2 separate regions of the Homo sapiens genome follow, and region 2 is linked to region 1. The links come from fine-mapping of genetic effects on gene expression. A gene starts in region 1. The other region holds a variant in brackets. All regions are shown on one strand. Distances are between the middles of the regions. Region 1 holds the start of MRPL43 (mitochondrial ribosomal protein L43). Region 2 has its middle 71 kb from the start of SLF2.

Evidence for each region. PIP is the estimated chance that this variant, and not a neighbour inherited with it, causes the effect.
Region 2: its variant is the best candidate, but not a certain one, in a credible set for the expression of MRPL43 in T cells (TOPMed, PIP 0.56).

Annotation. Positions count from the first base shown.
Region 1 is chr10:100,983,540-100,992,188 of GRCh38, reverse strand. MRPL43 (mitochondrial ribosomal protein L43) reads left to right here and starts at 4,692. Exons shown (of 3, transcript NM_032112.3): 1 at 4,692-4,876; 2 at 4,993-5,099; 3 at 5,214-5,920. The coding sequence starts at 4,746. The coding sequence ends at 5,455. It overlaps SEMA4G (semaphorin 4G), which reads right to left. Exons shown (of 15, transcript NM_017893.4): 15 at 6,573-8,649. The coding sequence ends at 8,058. It overlaps TWNK (twinkle mtDNA helicase), which reads right to left and starts at 4,646. Exons shown (of 5, transcript NM_021830.5): 1 at 2,736-4,646; 2 at 2,305-2,545; 3 at 1,646-1,753; 4 at 1,179-1,320. The coding sequence starts at 3,978. RefSeq lists an enhancer at 4,864-4,933.
Region 2 is chr10:100,837,659-100,846,307 of GRCh38, reverse strand. No RefSeq gene overlaps it. Among named protein-coding and RNA genes, the nearest start is that of SLF2, 71 kb to the left of the region's middle. The variant A/G (reference allele first, on the strand shown) is at 3,721.

The DNA.
Region 1 (8,649 bases):
CTGCCCAGGTTGGAGTGGAGTGCAGTGGTGTGAGCACGGCTCACTGCAGTCTCAACCTCCCAGGCTCAAGCAATCCTCCCACCTCAGCCTCCTGAGTAGCTGGGACCAAAGGTGCATGCTACCATGCCCAGCTAATTTTTAAATATATATATATTATATATATATATTTTTTGAGACGGAGTCTCACTCTGTCACCCAGGATGGAGTGCAGTGGCGCGATCTCCGCTCACTGCAAGCTCCGCCTCCCGGGTTCACGCCATTCTGCCTCAGCCTCCCAAGTAGCTGGGACTACAGGTGCCTGCCACCACGCCCGGCTAATTTTTTTTTTTTTTTGTATTTTTAGTAGAGACAGGGTTTCACCATGTTAGCAAGATAGTCTCGATCTCCTGACCTCGTGATCCACCCGCCTTGGCCTCCCAAAGTGCTGGGATTATAAGCGTGAGCCACCACGCCTGGCCAATTTTCAAATATTTTTGTAGAGACAGGGTCTCACTACATTGCTCAGATTGCCAAACTCCTGGGCCCCAGCAATCCTCCTGCCTCAGCCTCCCAAAGTGTTGAGATTACAGGTGTGATCCACTGTACCCTGCCATTTTTCCACTTCTGCATTACTCTCTTTCCCAGCTCCATGTTTGTTCCATCATGGCACATGATTTGTGCTCCTTGCTCTGAATTCCCTAGGCCCAGCCCAGGCCTCGTATGTAATAGGCATTCAGTGTAACACTAGAAGCTCCAGGATTGGGCTGGTCCTGATGCCCAGAAGGCCCTCACATTTATCTGATTGTCTAATACCCATTGTCTACCAAACCTCAACCCAACCTTTGTTGTCACCTCCTCTGGAAGTCTCCCAGATGTCCCGGGCTGACTCAGACATCTTTTCTCTTTGCTCTCCAAATACTTGTGCTGCCTATCATACTCTTATCATACTGAATTGCAATCACTGTCTTACTGTTTCCCCAGGAGAGGATGTGAGCTCCTGGGGGACAAGAAGAGCATAAGAACCAACTATCAGCCTTTGTATTTCCAGCACATATATTCCTCATGTCATGGCCCCAGAGGCATTGCCTCCTGCCTGTTCGGATGGACAGTCAAGACGATTAAGGCTGAATGAGGGCTGTCCCTGGTCACACCTACCCACTCTATTTTCCAAAGCTTGAGCTCCGCTAAAGGCCACTCACTTTGGCTGAGCCAAAAATGGACGCTGTCTGCAGTTCCTTGTCATCATCCTCTTTCCGGGGGTGAATGACCAGTGTCACATGGCAGTTATTGTCTGTTGCAAACTTCCGAAAGACCCCGATGATGTAGTCTTGAGCTGCGATCCTACGCCATCCCAACAACACAAAGAGCTTATCAGACACAGAAGGACAAGAACATACACATACTCTTGATCCATTCACATCTCCCCACAAACTACCACAACCCACTCTACCTCCCTCTACCCAAGGACTCACACTCAGATCCCTGTCCATACATCCTGCTGCCATACCCCACACCTCCATATGATACACATGGGGGTGGTACGTGCCTGCACACATCTCAGAAAATAGGAGAGCACAGCATGTGTGCCTAGAGGCCAGCTGCCTGAGAAGTGTGTGTTGTATGTCCAAGCGGGCTCAAGCTAGACAAGAGAGGATGTCACCGTCACCTGTCTGTGGACAGCTGCTCGTGACCCATCATGAACTGCAGGTTGTCGATGATCACATGACAAATGTCATAGACGTAGACTGCATGTTGCATTGTATCTATTACAGTCCTGGGAAGAGGAAAGGCAAGGAATTTGACAAGTTGTCTCTAGACCACCCCAGGCAGAAGAACTAGCATCCTGAAAACTCTCTTGGCTGCCTCCTCTGCCCTTCTATTATTATTACTATTATTTGAGACAAGGTCTTGCTCTGTAGCCCAGGCTGGAGTGCAGTGGTGTGATCACAGCTCACTGCAGCCCCAACCTACTAGGCTCAAGCGATCCTCTTACTTTAGCTTCTTGAGTAGCTGGGACCACAGGCATATGCCATCACCATGCCCAGCCTAATTTTTAAAAATTTTTTTATAGAGAGGGGTGGTCTCCCTATATTGCCCAGGTTGGTCTCAAATCCCTGGGCTCAAGTGATCCTCCCACCTCAGCCTCCCAAAGTGCTGGGATTACAGGCGTGAGCCAGTGTGTCCAGCCCTGCCCTCTCATTCTTTGAAAAACTCCAAACCTAAGGAGATGGGGGAGTTCCTACTGGAGCTGGAAAAGGAACCAAAGGTTCCTGAGTGCTGGGATATGTCTGGGAAAGCAAGGTGGCTGGAATCTGGGAGTCTCACCTGATGCTTTGCTGTCCATGGAAAGTCATGAAATAGAGGGGCAGGTCCTCAAAGCGGTCAGCCCAGTGATCATATTTGTCCAGTTGATCTTCCAGCCGCCCCTCGGCAAACTGTGTCAGCATGACCCGGGCTAGTCTCACATTGCTGATCTCGAAGCTACCCCACAGTGTGTTCACCCCCTGGGAACACAAATCCAGGGCATACTCACTGATGAATGTCGTCTTTCCACTGCCTGTTGGCCCTGCAGTGGGGTGGAACAGACCTGGGTGAGGAGGAAGTCCTACCCTTGAAACCAAGACATAGGTCAGGGCTTTAAAACTGGGGGGAAAGGGCCAACCTTCTTTTCAACATTGTCATGGCCCAAACCCACTTGCTTTTGTCACCTGATCTTCTGCCCCTTTACTCTAAGTAGTGATTTCTCAAAGGGTTACCTGTGAAGACCGTCAGCTCGCCCTTTCGATGTCCCTTCAAGATACGATTGAGGTCTGGAAAGCGGCTCCAGCGGAGGCCAGCTGCTTGCTCCACATTTGACAGTTCTCCTAGCACCTCCTCCCGAAGCTGCCGGAAAGATACGATGGACTTGTGCCAGGCAGGCAGGGCGGTACGAAGAATACGAGAAAGATTGAAGCCTCCGTTCAGGGCCTCCAGGGGACGGGGTTGCTGGTCTCCTGGTCGCACCAAGAAGCATCGTTTGGGGTTCAGTTTTCGTGCAAACAACTTGGCGGCTTCCCAGGACCGAAGGTCATCCCCCAACCAGAATACAATCCGCCGGAACTGTTCCAGGTAAGGGAGTAAGGCAGGGGGTAAGCAGGTCGTTCCTCGGGGTAGAGTAAGGGTAGGCAGCCCCGTGGACTGGTTCAAGGCCAGGCTGTCAAGCTCACGACTCGTCAGTACCACCTCAGCATCTCGACGACTAATCAGTGGTAATCCAAACAGATTGTGGTAGGCGCTGGGTCGGGGAATAGTGGTTTCCTCGTAGCTCACTCCATCCCCCTGGCATTTAGCCTCTAGGAGCTTCAGGCCTCGTAATCCTGAGCCCCCAGGGGAGAACCAAGGGAAGACAAGACTGCGAGCAGGTCGCAGATATCGCACACTGAAACGCTTGAGTGTGTCATCTGTAACCTTGGTAAGGCCAAACATTGTATCAGCCAGCTGAACCTCCTCCTGATCAGGCAGCTCCCAGAGAGGTATTGCTCGGTTCCAGATCCTCCGGACCTCCTCGCTGTCCTCAAATTCTGGTGCCTTGCTAAGCAGAAACCCCTCCCTGGCCCCATCCCCTCGCCCCTCCACGCTGGCCTGGAAGTCTTCCCAGCTCCCTTCTGCTAGGCTGGTCATGCAGAGAAAGTGGCCTGTGGTCTTGTCAATGAAGAGGCTGAAGGAAGTGGTAACACCAGTCTGGCCTTTGAGCTGTGAAGACTCTGCAAAGGGGCTCAGTGCCCGCAGGCAACTGTGACCATCCTGGAAGGGGATCCCATGCCCCCGCAAATACTGGCGGATTTCAGTTGCAGTTACAGGCAACACTGGCATATCCAAGGCTTGGAGAGTCTCCTTCCTGTAACGTCTGCGAGGAGGGCCTGGGGCCAAGTTTCGGGGCAGGCCCCTCCGACCCATCCACTCCCCACGCAGGGGTAACAAGATACGGAGGGGGTACCCACTTCGGAGGAGGACCCACATTCCTAGCCAAATGTGGGAAGTCACTACTTGAAATGCCTTAGGTGCCTGGTTAGCGTGCCTTCACTAGACCAAACTCTAGGGATATCCCACGCAGCACTCTGCAGAGCTCACTCTAGGTGCATTCTTTCTCTCCATGAATTTCTCCTCTTCAGCCCCTCTACGTTGCTGCTTCACACATATGCCCATCTACACGACCCTTTCGCGTCCACGTCCTTCTACAATGGCTCCCCCACCTCTATGGTCCGTTAGTTAGTTTCTCTCCGCCACCTCACCTCTATGACCCTCTATACAGTTCCTCACTGACACAGTTTCTTTGCATCATCTTCTCACCTCTACTGCTCCTCCACAGCATCTCCTCGTCGTCCTCATTTCTATAGTCATCTGCATCCTTTTTGTAGTCCCTTTGCCCTAGGCCCCGACTAGAGACCCTCTTCCGCTTCTCCTTCCCCTCACTGGGACCTCAACACGGCGAGAGCACCCAGCACGACTCCCGCCAATCCCCCGGCCCAAAGGAATGCCAGTCTCTATCCTCCCCCGTGTCTTCACTCCGCTCTACTACTCCGAGCTCCGCCGCGCCGGCCCCCAGCCCCAGGTTACCACTTTTCTCTCTCCCACTTCGCCGGCAACGTGAGTCTCCCGCACATGCTACTCGCCTTGACCTCGGAAGCAAAACTCCGGGAGCGGTCGTCCCGGAACCGGAAGCCTCGAGGTTTAGTCCCGCCCCCCTCTCCTCGCTGCTTAGGCTCCGCGGCCTCCAAGCTGTAGCTATGACGGCGCGCGGGACTCCGAGCCGCTTCTTGGCCAGCGTTCTCCACAACGGACTGGGTCGCTATGTGCAGCAGCTGCAGCGTCTGAGCTTCAGCGTCAGCCGCGACGGCGCCTCGTCTCGCGGCGCCAGGTGAGCCAAGGGAAGTGCGCAGGCGCGGGTCGGGGTGGGTGTGGAGGTGGCAACGACTCCCCGGGTAGGTCGCCCCCAGTCAGGGGTCATACTGCTCACTGTCCCGGGTCGCTTAGGGAGTTCGTGGAGCGGGAGGTGATCGACTTCGCCCGACGGAATCCAGGGGTCGTAATATATGTAAACTCGCGTCCGTGCTGCGTGCCCAGAGTAGTGGCCGAATACCGTGAGTGGGGCCGGGCTCGGGCTGGAGGGCGGGATCAGGGGCTCGACCCGCTATCCTCCTTCTCGCTTGGTCGCACCGGCCAGCTTCCACCCACTCTCACCCCTCTTCTGCCAGTTAACGGGGCTGTGCGCGAGGAGAGCATCCACTGCAAGTCGGTCGAGGAGATCTCGACGCTGGTGCAGAAGCTGGCCGACCAGTCGGGCTTGGACGTGATCCGCATCCGCAAGCCCTTCCACACCGACAACCCTAGCATCCAGGGCCAGTGGCACCCCTTCACCAACAAGCCGACCACGTTCCGCGGGCTACGCCCCCGAGAGGTTCAGGATCCTGCCCCAGCCCAGGTGCAAGCACAGTGAAGAGTTGCCCCACCAACTGCAGCCCCAGGCTTTGGACTGTTACTCCGGTAAAGGTGGTTCTTCCCCTTTGGGATTCCAAGCCCAGGCAAATGGAACCCATCAATGGGCAAGTTGACAGAGGTTCTGCTTGGGATAATGAAGAGCTGCCTGTTTCTTTCCAGTGCCTGCTTCTGGGGGCAGTGACCTTGTGAACCACTCATTTTTATGCAAGTGGCATCCCTAAAACCTGAGATGAGGAAGACTTCAAGGGTTTTACAGGGCCCTTGTTTTTTAAATCCAAATTGATAATAATGATCTCAAAACACAGTGAGAGGTCTGAAGGCTGGCTTCTGAAGAATCCCTGATGTCTTATTGGAACAACCACTGAGCTACGGAGAGCTCTGCTGTGATGGGCTAGGCACTTTATATCTGTGTGAATACAGATTTATAAAACAGGTTAATAAACTTATCCAAGGTCACATTTCAGGTCTGTCTTCAAAATGTGTGCATATGTTAAGCACAAGCCTCAGTTTTCATTATTTTAAAACTAGACGCAGAACATATAACAACTGTCAGGTGGTTAGTATCAAAGGCCAAGTGATTAATCTAGGCCTGACCCCTGAAAGGGAGAGGGGAGTGATTCTCAGACCAAGTCCTGGCTGACAAGCTTTCTCTGGTCTTAGCTATACATCTCCTTCCCCCCACGTCCCTCTTTGTGCAGAAATAAAATCCATGTCCCTTGAGCCAGCTGGTGGGGGGTGCTGAGAACCTTGGGGAAGGGCAGGAAGGCTGATATTAATGAGTATTTTCTAATCTTAGTTTAAAAAGGGGGGATGGTGGGGAAATGAGAGGCAGGAAATGAAAATCTAGAAACCCCTGTAAGAATTCTTGAACTGTTGTCATTTTCTTGTCATGCCCTAACACCATGATCAATGAATAGTGTGAACCTTACTAAAGAGGCCTGTGTGCCTGCCAAGGAGTCAGGATGGAAGCGGAGGATCCCAATTTCCTCTGCAAATAGTTGTATTGGGGAGCAGAGCCAATCCTGGAGGCAGATATCACCTTCTGTATAGGCTCAGGAGCCTGTCCCCTGGTGATCAGGGGTGGGCGCATCTAGATGAAGCAGACTAGTCATAGCTGTGGGGAAAAAGGGTGTTTATTAACCAACGGCAGGGGGAGGAGCTGAGCCCAGGCTCCCCACTCTGTCACATGCCTGTTCCACCCACCTGGTTGTAAGTGGGGGCATTCCTAAAGAAGTGTAGCCATTCTCACAATAAATACATTCATTGTGGGGTGGAGGTGGGAGAGGTTGGGTGAAGGGCAGTAAAAACCCGTGGGATTCCACGTTCTCAGCTACAAAAATAACAGTCATCCTCACCCGAGGGGAATGGGGGAGCTCAGTCAGAATTGATTGTCCCATATAGGCCTAGAGACTTCAGAGGCCCCTGGCCCCTGAAAGTGCCCCGGTGAGGTAGGACAGGGGTAGGAGCTAAGCGTCCAAACTCCCAGCCTCTGCCCTTTGCATAGTTCCAAGAATGGGCTTCATGTGCCAGTTGAGACATCAGATTTCTCCTCCCTTTCCCTGCTGTAGTCTAGAGGAAGCAAATGCTTGATTCCCCCAAAAGAGAGGCTGGCTCATTGAGTGCAGTGTTGGTCATCCATCCTAGGCAAGGGCCTGTGAGGACAGTTAAATGGGAGGGGGATCTCCCTCTGAAATGTCCACGGACTAAACCCAACAGACAGGTCCAAGACAGCAAGGGAGGCTCAGAGGTGCATGTGAGTGGAAATGTAAGCACATGTGTGATACAGGTGTGTGTTACCACATGTGCATGGGGATGGGACATGCCTGGAGCTCTGTCTCTCATACTCTTGAGAATGACCAAGGAGAGTGGGGAGGCTGATTCACAAGGGCCACACAGGAAGGGAGAGGAGGGGAGTGATGCAGTCTTACCTCCCCAGGCTGGCCCGTTCCCAAGCTCTTGACAAAGAGGTCACCACATGGGGCTGGGGAAGAGGACCAGATAGGATGTGGCAATTGGGAGGGTACCCCAAGTCCAGAAGCAGGGATGAAACAAGAATGCACCAGGAGAAGGTGAGGGTGGGGGCACTGCAGCCCAGCCGATAAACATTCTTCCATGTGTGCATGTGAATGTACGCAGGGCTTAGGTGGCTGGCAGAGGTCTTGTCTGGTTTCAGGACCATCCAGCACACAGGGCCATGCAGAGGGTGGTGACATTGAGCCCATATGGACCTGCAGAGCCCTGCCTGGGAGAAAGAGAAAGGGTTTGGGCAGATGAATGGAACAGGAGGATGGAGTCCTCACCTATAAGTGTTTAGGTTAGGGGATAGGAACTGGCTCTGGGTCTGCAGGGCACCTGATCCTGAGGGAGCACCTACCTCTGAGGAGCACCGATGGGCCTGGGCTGCTCACATGTGGGTCTGTGGAGACTGAGGAGGGGGCTTTGGCTGGGCCTGACTGGCCAGCCCTACAGGGACATCAAAAAGTTGGGAGAAGGGTATGGAGTGGGGGTAATGAAGGGAGGGTGGCTGTGTTAGGGAGGCAGTGGCCCAGCCTGGGACAGATAGGCTGGCTTGGAAGAGCATTTGTTCTGGGAGGCTGGGCTCAGACAGAGCTCTCATCTAGCTGCTCCACGAGCTGCGTGTGCTTCCTTTTTTCCAGGATGCGGCTGAGTTCCTCGGCGAAGGAGCAGGGCCCTGCTGGTACTCCATTGTTGCTCTGCCTCAGAAGCACATAGCTATTGCCATTCATCCTCCGCAGCCGGCTGGGCAGTGCCACCAAGCCATTGGTCAGCTCAGCCGGTGGCGGTGGGGGCGGTGGGGGTGGTGGGGCTGGGGCTCCCTCCCCAGGGATGATCTGGAGACAGCTGCCCTCCAGGCCCCCAGCCCCCTCATCATCACCCTCATCTTCCTCTCCAGGACACTGGCCTGAGACTGTCTGCAGTTGCACCGCAGATCCTCCTGCCCGGCTGGCCCGACCCAGTGAGTATTTCCGTCGGCGCCCTCGTCTGCCTTCCCGCAGACAGGCCACATAGAGGAGGGAGGAGGCCAGGATGAGGCAGAGGCCACCAAGCGCGGCAATGGCTAGCACATAGAGCAGTCTCACATCAGGTGCCAGCTGTGCCCCAGGTGTGGCAGGGGCTTTTGGAGCTGGGGCAGGAGTGGCTGGCCGGACTGTGAGACTATAGGAGGCCAGC
Region 2 (8,649 bases), 150 kb after region 1:
TTAAAAAGGAATATCTGCTCACTGAAAAAAATTCAAATGATAAACAGCTCTCTTCTATCAAATAAGAATAAAACTAGCACACACTTCATCGATTTGCTATGAGGATTAAATGAGTGTAAAGTGTTTAGAGCAGCGCATGGCATAAGTTTGTAAGATAAAAATAAAAATAAAACTGTTTAAAAAGGAAAAAAGCTCTTTTCCTCACCTCTCCCATCTCTATATCAGTCATATGTTTCAGAGGTAGCCATATTATTAATTTATTGTGTATATTTCTAAAATTTTAAAAAATTTTCTAAAAAATTTAAAGTAATGTACTTACATGAAGCAAGTGTGGCAAAATTTTGATAAATTGCTAATTCTGAGGGATTAGAATATGAGAGTTCATTGTACTATTTTCTCACTTTTGTGTATGTTTGAATTTTTCATTAAAAGTTAAATATAGGCCAGGCGTGGTGGCTCATGCCTGTAATCCCAGCACTTTGGGAGGCCGAGGTCAGATCACCTGAGGTCAGGAGTTTGAGACCAGCCTGGCTAACATGGCGAAACCCTGTCTCTACTAAAAATACAAAAAAAATTAGCCAGGCATTGTGGCGGGCTCCTGTACCCAGCTACTCAGGAGGCTGAGGCAGGAGAATCTCTTGAACCTGGAAGGTGGGTTGCAGTGAGCCAAGATGGCAGCACTGCACTCCAGCCTGGATAACAGAGTGAAACTCTGTCTCCAAAAAAAATATATAAAAAATAAAAATAAAATAAAAATAAATAAATAAAAGTTAAATATAGTTGGCTGCGAGTGGTAGCTCACACCTGTAATCCCAGTACTTTGGGAGGCTGAGGCGGGAGGATGGGTTGAGCCCAAGAGTTTGAGACCAGCCTGGGCAATATAGCAAGACCTCATCTCTACAAAAAATCAAAAACTTAGCCAGGCGTGGTGGTGTGTCGCTGTAGTCCCAGCTACTTGGGAGGATGAGGCAAGAAGAACACTTGAACCCATGAGGTTAAGGCTTCAGTGAGCCATGATTGTGACCCTGCCTCAAAAAAAAAAAAGTTATATACAGTTGACCATTGAACACTGCAGGGGCTGGAGTGCGGACCCATGATGTAGTTGAAAATCCATGTGTAACTTTTCAAATGGCCAAAAAACATGAAAAAAATGCTCAACATCACTAATGATCAAGGAAATGCAAATCAAAACCACTATATGATACCACCTTACTTCCACAAGAATGGCCATAATAAAAAAAATTTAAAAAATAGATGTTGGCATGGATAAGGTGAAAAGGGAACACTTCTACACTGTTGGTGGGAACGTAAACTAGTACAACCACTATGGAAAACAGTGTGGAGATTCCTTAAAGAACTAAAAGTAGAACTACCATTTGACTCAGAAATCCCACAACTGGGTATCTACCCAGAGGAAAAGAAGTCATTGTTGAAAAAGGTACTTGCACACACATGTTTATAGCAGCACAATTCACAATTGCAAAAATGTGGAACCAACTCAAATGCCCACCAATCAACGAATGGATAAAGAAACTGTGGTACATATATGACGGAATACTGCTCAGCCATAAAAAGAAATGAATTAACAGCATTTGCAGCAACCTGGATGGGATTGGAGACTATTATTCTAAGTGAGTAACTCAGGAATGGAAAACCAAACGTTGTATGTTCTCACTCATAGGTGGGAGCTAAGCTATGAGGATGCAAACGCATAAGAATTATACAGTGGACTTTGGGGACTCAGGGGCAAAGGGTGAGAAGGGGTGAGGGGTAAAAGACTACACATTGGGTTCAGTGTACACTGCTCGAGTGATGGGTGCACCAAAATCTCACAAATCACCACTAAAGAAACTTACTCATGTAACCAAATAGCACCTGTTCCCCCAAAATCTATGGACATAAATAATTAAAAAAAAAAATCTATGTATAACTTTTGACTCTCCCAAAACTTAACTACGAATAGCCTACTGTTGCCCAGAAGGCTTACCAATAACAAACTGTCGATTAACACATATTCTGTGTGTTATATGTATTATATACTGTATTCTTACAATAAAGTAAGCTAGAAAAAAGAAAATGCTATTAAGAAAATCATGAGGAAGAGAAAATATACTTACTATTCAATAAGTGGAAGTGGACCGTCATAAAAGTCTTCATCCTCGTTGCCTTCACACTGAGTAGGCTGAGGAGAAGGAGGGAGGAAAGGGGTTGGTCTTGCTGTCTCGGGGTGGCAGAGGTCAAAGATGTGGAGGACGCAGAACAGGAGGCAGGAAAGGCAAGCACATTCAGTGTAACTTTTTTGGAAAAATTCTGCATATAAATGGATCCATGCAGTTCAAACCTATGTTGTTCAAGGGTCAACTGTATTTACATAGCTCAAAAAGCAACCAAATACAAGGTTATAGTTGTCTTCTATTAAGTCCCTATAGGCAACCTTTTTGAAAATGATTAGTTACATCTTCTGATATGTACTTCCCTACTTCTGTGGCCATATCATGCTTATATTGCTATTTTTGACTTTTCACTTTATCTCTAATATTATAGATATCATATGTATTATGTGTACATATATCTATAAATATTCAGGAATTTTAACAATTATTATTCTCTGAATATACCTTAAAAACACACCCTGGCCAGGTGAGGTTGCTCACACCTGTAATCCCAGCACTCTGGGAGGCCGAGGCAGGTGGATCACGAGGTAAGGAGATTGAGACCAGCCTGGCCAACACGGTGAAACCCCGTCTCTACTAAAAACACAAAAAATTAGCCGGGCATGGTGGCACGCGCCTGTAGTCCCAGCTACTCGGGAGGCTGAGGCAGGAGAATTGCTTAAACCCGGGAGGCAGAGGCTGCAGTGAGTTGAGATCACACTACTGCACTCCAGCCCGGGCAACAGAGCGAGACTCTGTCTCAGAAAAAAACAAAACAAAACAAACCACACCCTGTCTTTTTTTCATGGATGTGTTTCTTATACCTCTCTGAGGTTATTAATTGCAGGTTTGTTTGTTTTTTTAAGCTTTCTTCTCTTCTCTGAATATTCTTTGATACTTTCAAGTTCTTTTTTTTTCTTGAGATGGAGTTTCTGTCATCCAGGCTGTAGTGCAGTGGTGCAATCTCGGCTCACGGCAACCTCCACCTCCTGAGTTCAAGTGATTCTCATGCCTCAGCCTCCTGAGTAGCTGGGATTACAGGCATGTATCACCATGCCCAGCTATTAACTAATTATTATAGAAGATGAGGATTGGGATCTCTTATGTCACCACCTATAATCATTTTGTCTTTGGCCCAATATATTTATATCACAATTTGGGGTAAAAATCAATCAATATATCACATTTATGTATATAAGTGTGTAAATTTTTTTTTGAGATGGAGTCTTGCTCTGTTACCCAGGCTGGAGTGCAGTAGCTCAATCTCAGCTCAATGCAAGCTCCGCCTCCTGGGTTCAAGCAATTCTTCTGCCTCAGCCTCCTGAGTAGCTGGAATTACAGTCACCTGCCACCACGCCTGGCTAATTTTTGTATTTTTAGTAGAGACGGAGTTTCACCAAGATGGCCAGGCTGGTCTCGAACTCCTGACCTCAGGTCATCCACCCACCTTGGCCTCCCAAAGTGCTGGGATTAGGGGCGTGAGCCACTGTGCCCGGCCTGGTCTTTATCTTTTATGTTAGAAACTTGTCCTAAATCATTAGCATCTTTTCCTGTCCATCAATACACA[A/G]AGGTAGGGCACTAAATGACCGCTTGAAAGCTCTGTGCTAATTTTAGGACCTGTTGATTAGTGGACATCACTGAAGAATGATCAGTTGGAGACCCGGATGTTTTGTGGGGGGACTCTGATTGTCAGTATTTAGAGGTCTTTTTTGGGGGGCTGGTCAGTTTGTTCAGTTTCCAGCTTGGAGGGCTGAACAATGGAAGACAGCTGCCAGCTTTCTGAAGTTCAAGATGGGGGAGATAGCTACTCCCCAAATTTAACCAGCTCATTTCAATATAACATGGGTTAAACATTGAAAACTTCAAACATATATAAAAGTAGAGAGGAGTATAATGAACCCAGCTCCAACGGTTATCAATTTATGGCCAGTCTTATTCTATATATTCCTCAGCCAACTCTACCCCCTAGATTATTTGATAGCAAATCCAAGATATCACATCATTTAATTTATAAATATTTCAGTTTATATTTTTAAAGTAAATGACTTTAAAATAACCATAATATCACTAGCACATCTAAAAACTTAATAGTGTCCAGTTAATGCAGTGCTTACATGTCCCTGATTGCCTCATAACATCTTCTACTCTTCTTTCTCTTCCTCCTCTTCCTGCTCCTTCTCCTCCTTTTAATTACTTGCAAGATTCAAATATAATGCAATTAGTTGATATATCTCTCAAGTCTGTTTTAGTCTATCCATTTTTTTCTCTCTTTCAATTTTTTAATTGAGGAAGCCAGGATATTTACCCATAACCTGGAGTTTTTGGATTGCATCCTTGAGGTTCCTCTGCTCACAGTATTTTCTGCAAGATAGTAGTTACATCTATAGGCTTGATTAGATTTAGATTAGATTTTTTTTGAAATATCACTTTATTTATTTATTTATTTATTTATTTATTTATTTATTTATTTAAGATAGAGTCTCTCCCTGTTGCCCAGGCTGGAGTACAGTGGCGTGATCTTGGCTCACTGCAACCTCGGCCTCCTGGATTCAACCCAAGGTATATATAGCTCATATAAGAAAGGCAGTAGAAATGCTTGGTTTTTTTTTTCGATCAGTTTACCAAATTATGAGTTGGCTCTCTACCATCCTTCAAAGAAGATTAGTAAGGTTTTTCTTTTAAGTATAATGATTATTCATGGATTTAAATTTATTAGATGAGTTTCAATCAATTGCAGTTATTATAAACACTGATGCTCAATTGTATCATCTTTGGCAAATGGGAGCCTGTAATTAGTGCACAAGTCCTTTTGAAATGACCCTAGTAGTCTTTCATAGCTTCCTCGCTTTCTGGTATAAGATTTCCAGAATGATCTTGTACATGTCCTGTTTCAGATCTGAAATTTTTCATTTCCCCCAAAGAGCCCTGGTTCTTTTTAATGCAAAATGGTATTTAAAGACCACAGTCTGGAGACTAGAGGTGCTTATTGCTACTGAGTTGGTTGGTTTCTTGTCTTTTTCAATGCATAAAGCCATGAAATACATTTTTTAAAGATAAAATACATCAACAGTTATTACTGATACTTCCAAATCAAATGCAAGACTATGGGGATTTTACTAATCACCACTGATCTTCCATCTGTTTTTGTTTGTTTATTTCTCCCTTACCAAAAAACTCTAAGAACATCAATCTCATTACTTATTGGCTTTATTAGTGTATATCCCACTAGGGATGTATGTAGAGTCAATTACTGGATTTTAAATTACTTGAAATAGTTTATCTATGTGATTATAATACCAACTTAGTAGATAAGTTCATTTGTTTCATTTTGCTTTTGATTTTTTATGGATTACTTATTTACATACTTGATTTTATTGTGTTATTATATAAAGTATCTATATGGTTTTAATCTATTTTTAAAAATCTATTGAAAATTTATACTCAGTGATGTCTACCTTCTACCCCATCCTCTTCACTTTGTTTCCTCCTTTCTCCAATAATTATTTTTAAAATATTTTGTTTATCTTTTCATTTCAAGAAATGTAAGCAAATAAGAATATATATTCATATCCATCCTTTCTTTCTTAAACACTTGCCCATTACACACATTTTAATCCACCTTAATATTGACCTTTTAAAAAATGTATGTCTAGGAATATGTCACTTGTTTATCCTTTGGCTCAACCTGCTCCCTGGTTTTTTTCTCACTGGTTTGTCACACACTTCTAAAAGCAGATACCCAATGACAAGAGCAAGAATGTGCTTTAAAGGCAGATGTGGATCTGAGTCTGAATTCCAGCTCTGCCCTTTACTTGCTATGTGACTTTAGACAAATATGTTTAATCTCTCTGGGTCTCATTGTCTTCATCTGTAAAACGAATAAGATAAAACCTTCTTCCTTGGGTTATGGTGAATAATCTGCAGAAGAACAGTGCCCAGCACATAGTAAAGATCAGATATGTGAGTTGTTTTCAATTGTGTTACTCTGGGTTTTCTTTTATATTCTTGTCAATGTGATGATTCCAAGAATCTTACAAGTACTGAATATGATTTGCCCTATTTCAGCTCCTGAAGGAGCAGACACCTCTCAGGCTAAGTGAACAGTCAAGAGCACTGAAAGGGGTCAGGGCTGCTCAGATAGTATCCACAGTTGGGGGCTGGCTTGCTTTGATCCTGGCCAGCCTAACAGAGCTATGTCCTGTTCTGCAAAGCCACCACCACTTCTTGCCTTCCTTCTTTTCTTTTCCCCTTCCCTTCCCTTTCCTTTCCTTTCTCCTTCCTTCCTTCCCTTCCTCCCTCCCTCCCTCCCTCCCTCCCTCCCTTCCTTCCTTCCTTCCTTCCTTCCTTCCTTCCTTTTTTTTTGTTTTTAGAGTCTCACTCACTCTGTCACCTAGGCTAGAGTGCAATGGCACGAACTCGGCTTACTGTAACCTCCGCCTCCTGAGTTAAGTGATTCTAGTGCCTCAGCCTCCTGAGTAGCTGGGATTACAGGCGTGCACCACCACACCTGGCTAATTTTTGTATTTTTTAGTAGAGACAGGATTTCACCATGTTTGGCCAGGCTGATCTTGAACTCCTGATCTCAAGTGATCCACCTGCCTCAGCCTTCCAAAGTACTGGGGTTACAGGCGTCAGCCACTGTGCCCAGCCCCCAGTTTTCTTTCTCGGCTGAGCTCTTTCCTATCCCAGGCTGCAACATCCTTCCAGAAGCTTCTTCCAGCCTCTGCAGCATCCTGAGGAAGCTTCCTTTTAAACTTGGAAAGGGCTTTCTTACTCTATTCTCAGAGCCCTGGGGCTTAGGTTAAGAGCTCCATCCTCTTCCCTTCCACTGCCTTTGAGGTTTTATGATCATGTGACATCATTACCACACTCTGCCATCATGTGATTGCATCATTATATCGGTAACCATTACTAAGTTAACACAATTACACTGTCAGATTGTCATATCAAGTTGCTGGGTTGTGTGCCTTGTTACAGTCATTTCAACACTACAATATCACTGATTACATGGTTACCTCATTATAGCCCAGTACTGTTAACCTATAGTGCACCGACCCATCATTTCCTGGCTGACAGTAGCAAATTGCCATATGGTTATACTGTTTTTGGATTACATCGTTACAGCCCTACACTACACTATCACTTGTATCTTGGCAGTGATACATCATCTTTACTGTGCTATGGTATTATAGGATTATTTTGGGTTAATACTATACTGTTACTTTGTTACAGAATTAAATTGGCCCATCCAAACTGCAATGCAAAACTGGAGACTAGGAGAGTGGGGCAGGAGGGTATATCTCCCCATTCTACATCCAGAGGCCAATTTACTCCCCTGAGCTACTTCCCTGTAATTCTGTCTATTGGCCATCATGCCCTGGCATGTCAAACTCAGGCACAAATACTCAATATGCAAAGGCATGTCATGATCTCTAGCCCCAAGTTAGCGTCTCTTCTTACCTCTGCTGGTGGCCCATCAGCTGCCAGGCTCTTGGAACACCCTTGGAGGCAATCATCTTTGCCCTATCTCTCCTCCTCACCTTCATAACCAATTGGCAGCCAAGTCCAGATATGCTACCTCAGTGAGGCTACCACCAGGCCTTCTTGGGCCAGACACTTGGAGATGGAGCCCACCCAGCTTACCTGTCCCCCTCTGTCCCTCAGGGAGACTTCCTTATCACAGATCTTCCTTCCACAGGTCAACCTGCATCTCTCTCTCTCTCTCACTCTCACTCCATTTCATCCCCCATCTCATCATTGCACTAGCCTTCTAATAGTCTCCCTGCCTCAAACTTTCCCTTCAACCACCTTGTCTGGCAGCTAGAATTAACTTGTAAATAAAACTTTGCATCAGGTCACCTTAGAAGTAGTCAGTGCCCTCCCCCCAGTTAAGGATAGGAAAATGGTCAAACAGTCTGGCATTGATTGCCCTTCACAAACTGGTCTCCCTGGCCCTCATCTCTCTCATCCAGTCAGTACCCAAGTCTTGTCAGTTCAACCTCCAGCAAATATATGAGTATCAGTTTTGGAAAGTTCCCTTTCCAACTATTACCCAATATTTCCAACTATTACTTCTCCCTTGAACAACCCCATGCTTCAGCCAGCCCATGTTTGCACAGAGCCTGCTTCTTTCAGACCCCACTTCCCTACTCTTCTGGGAAGTCCTCCTAACCATTCTCTCTGCCATTCTACTCTGCAGCCCTCAGCAGCCTCTCCCTCGTCTGAGCCCACAAGGCACAGCTGATTTGGGTCAGTTTGATGGGCTCACAAATATTCTCTGAGGGTTTCTCAGCCTCTAGCCAACCCAGCTTGTCTTGGGCTATCAAGAGAGTTCTGACACTGGGGAACTTGGCCTCAGACAAGGGGGAGAGCCAAGACAGGGCTAGGCAATTCTTCATTCAGTACATTTATTCTGGTATCCATTAAATGCCAGGCTCTGAGAAAAAAGACATTGACTCCACTCTTGTGAAACTTAACATTTTTGTGGAAAGACAGA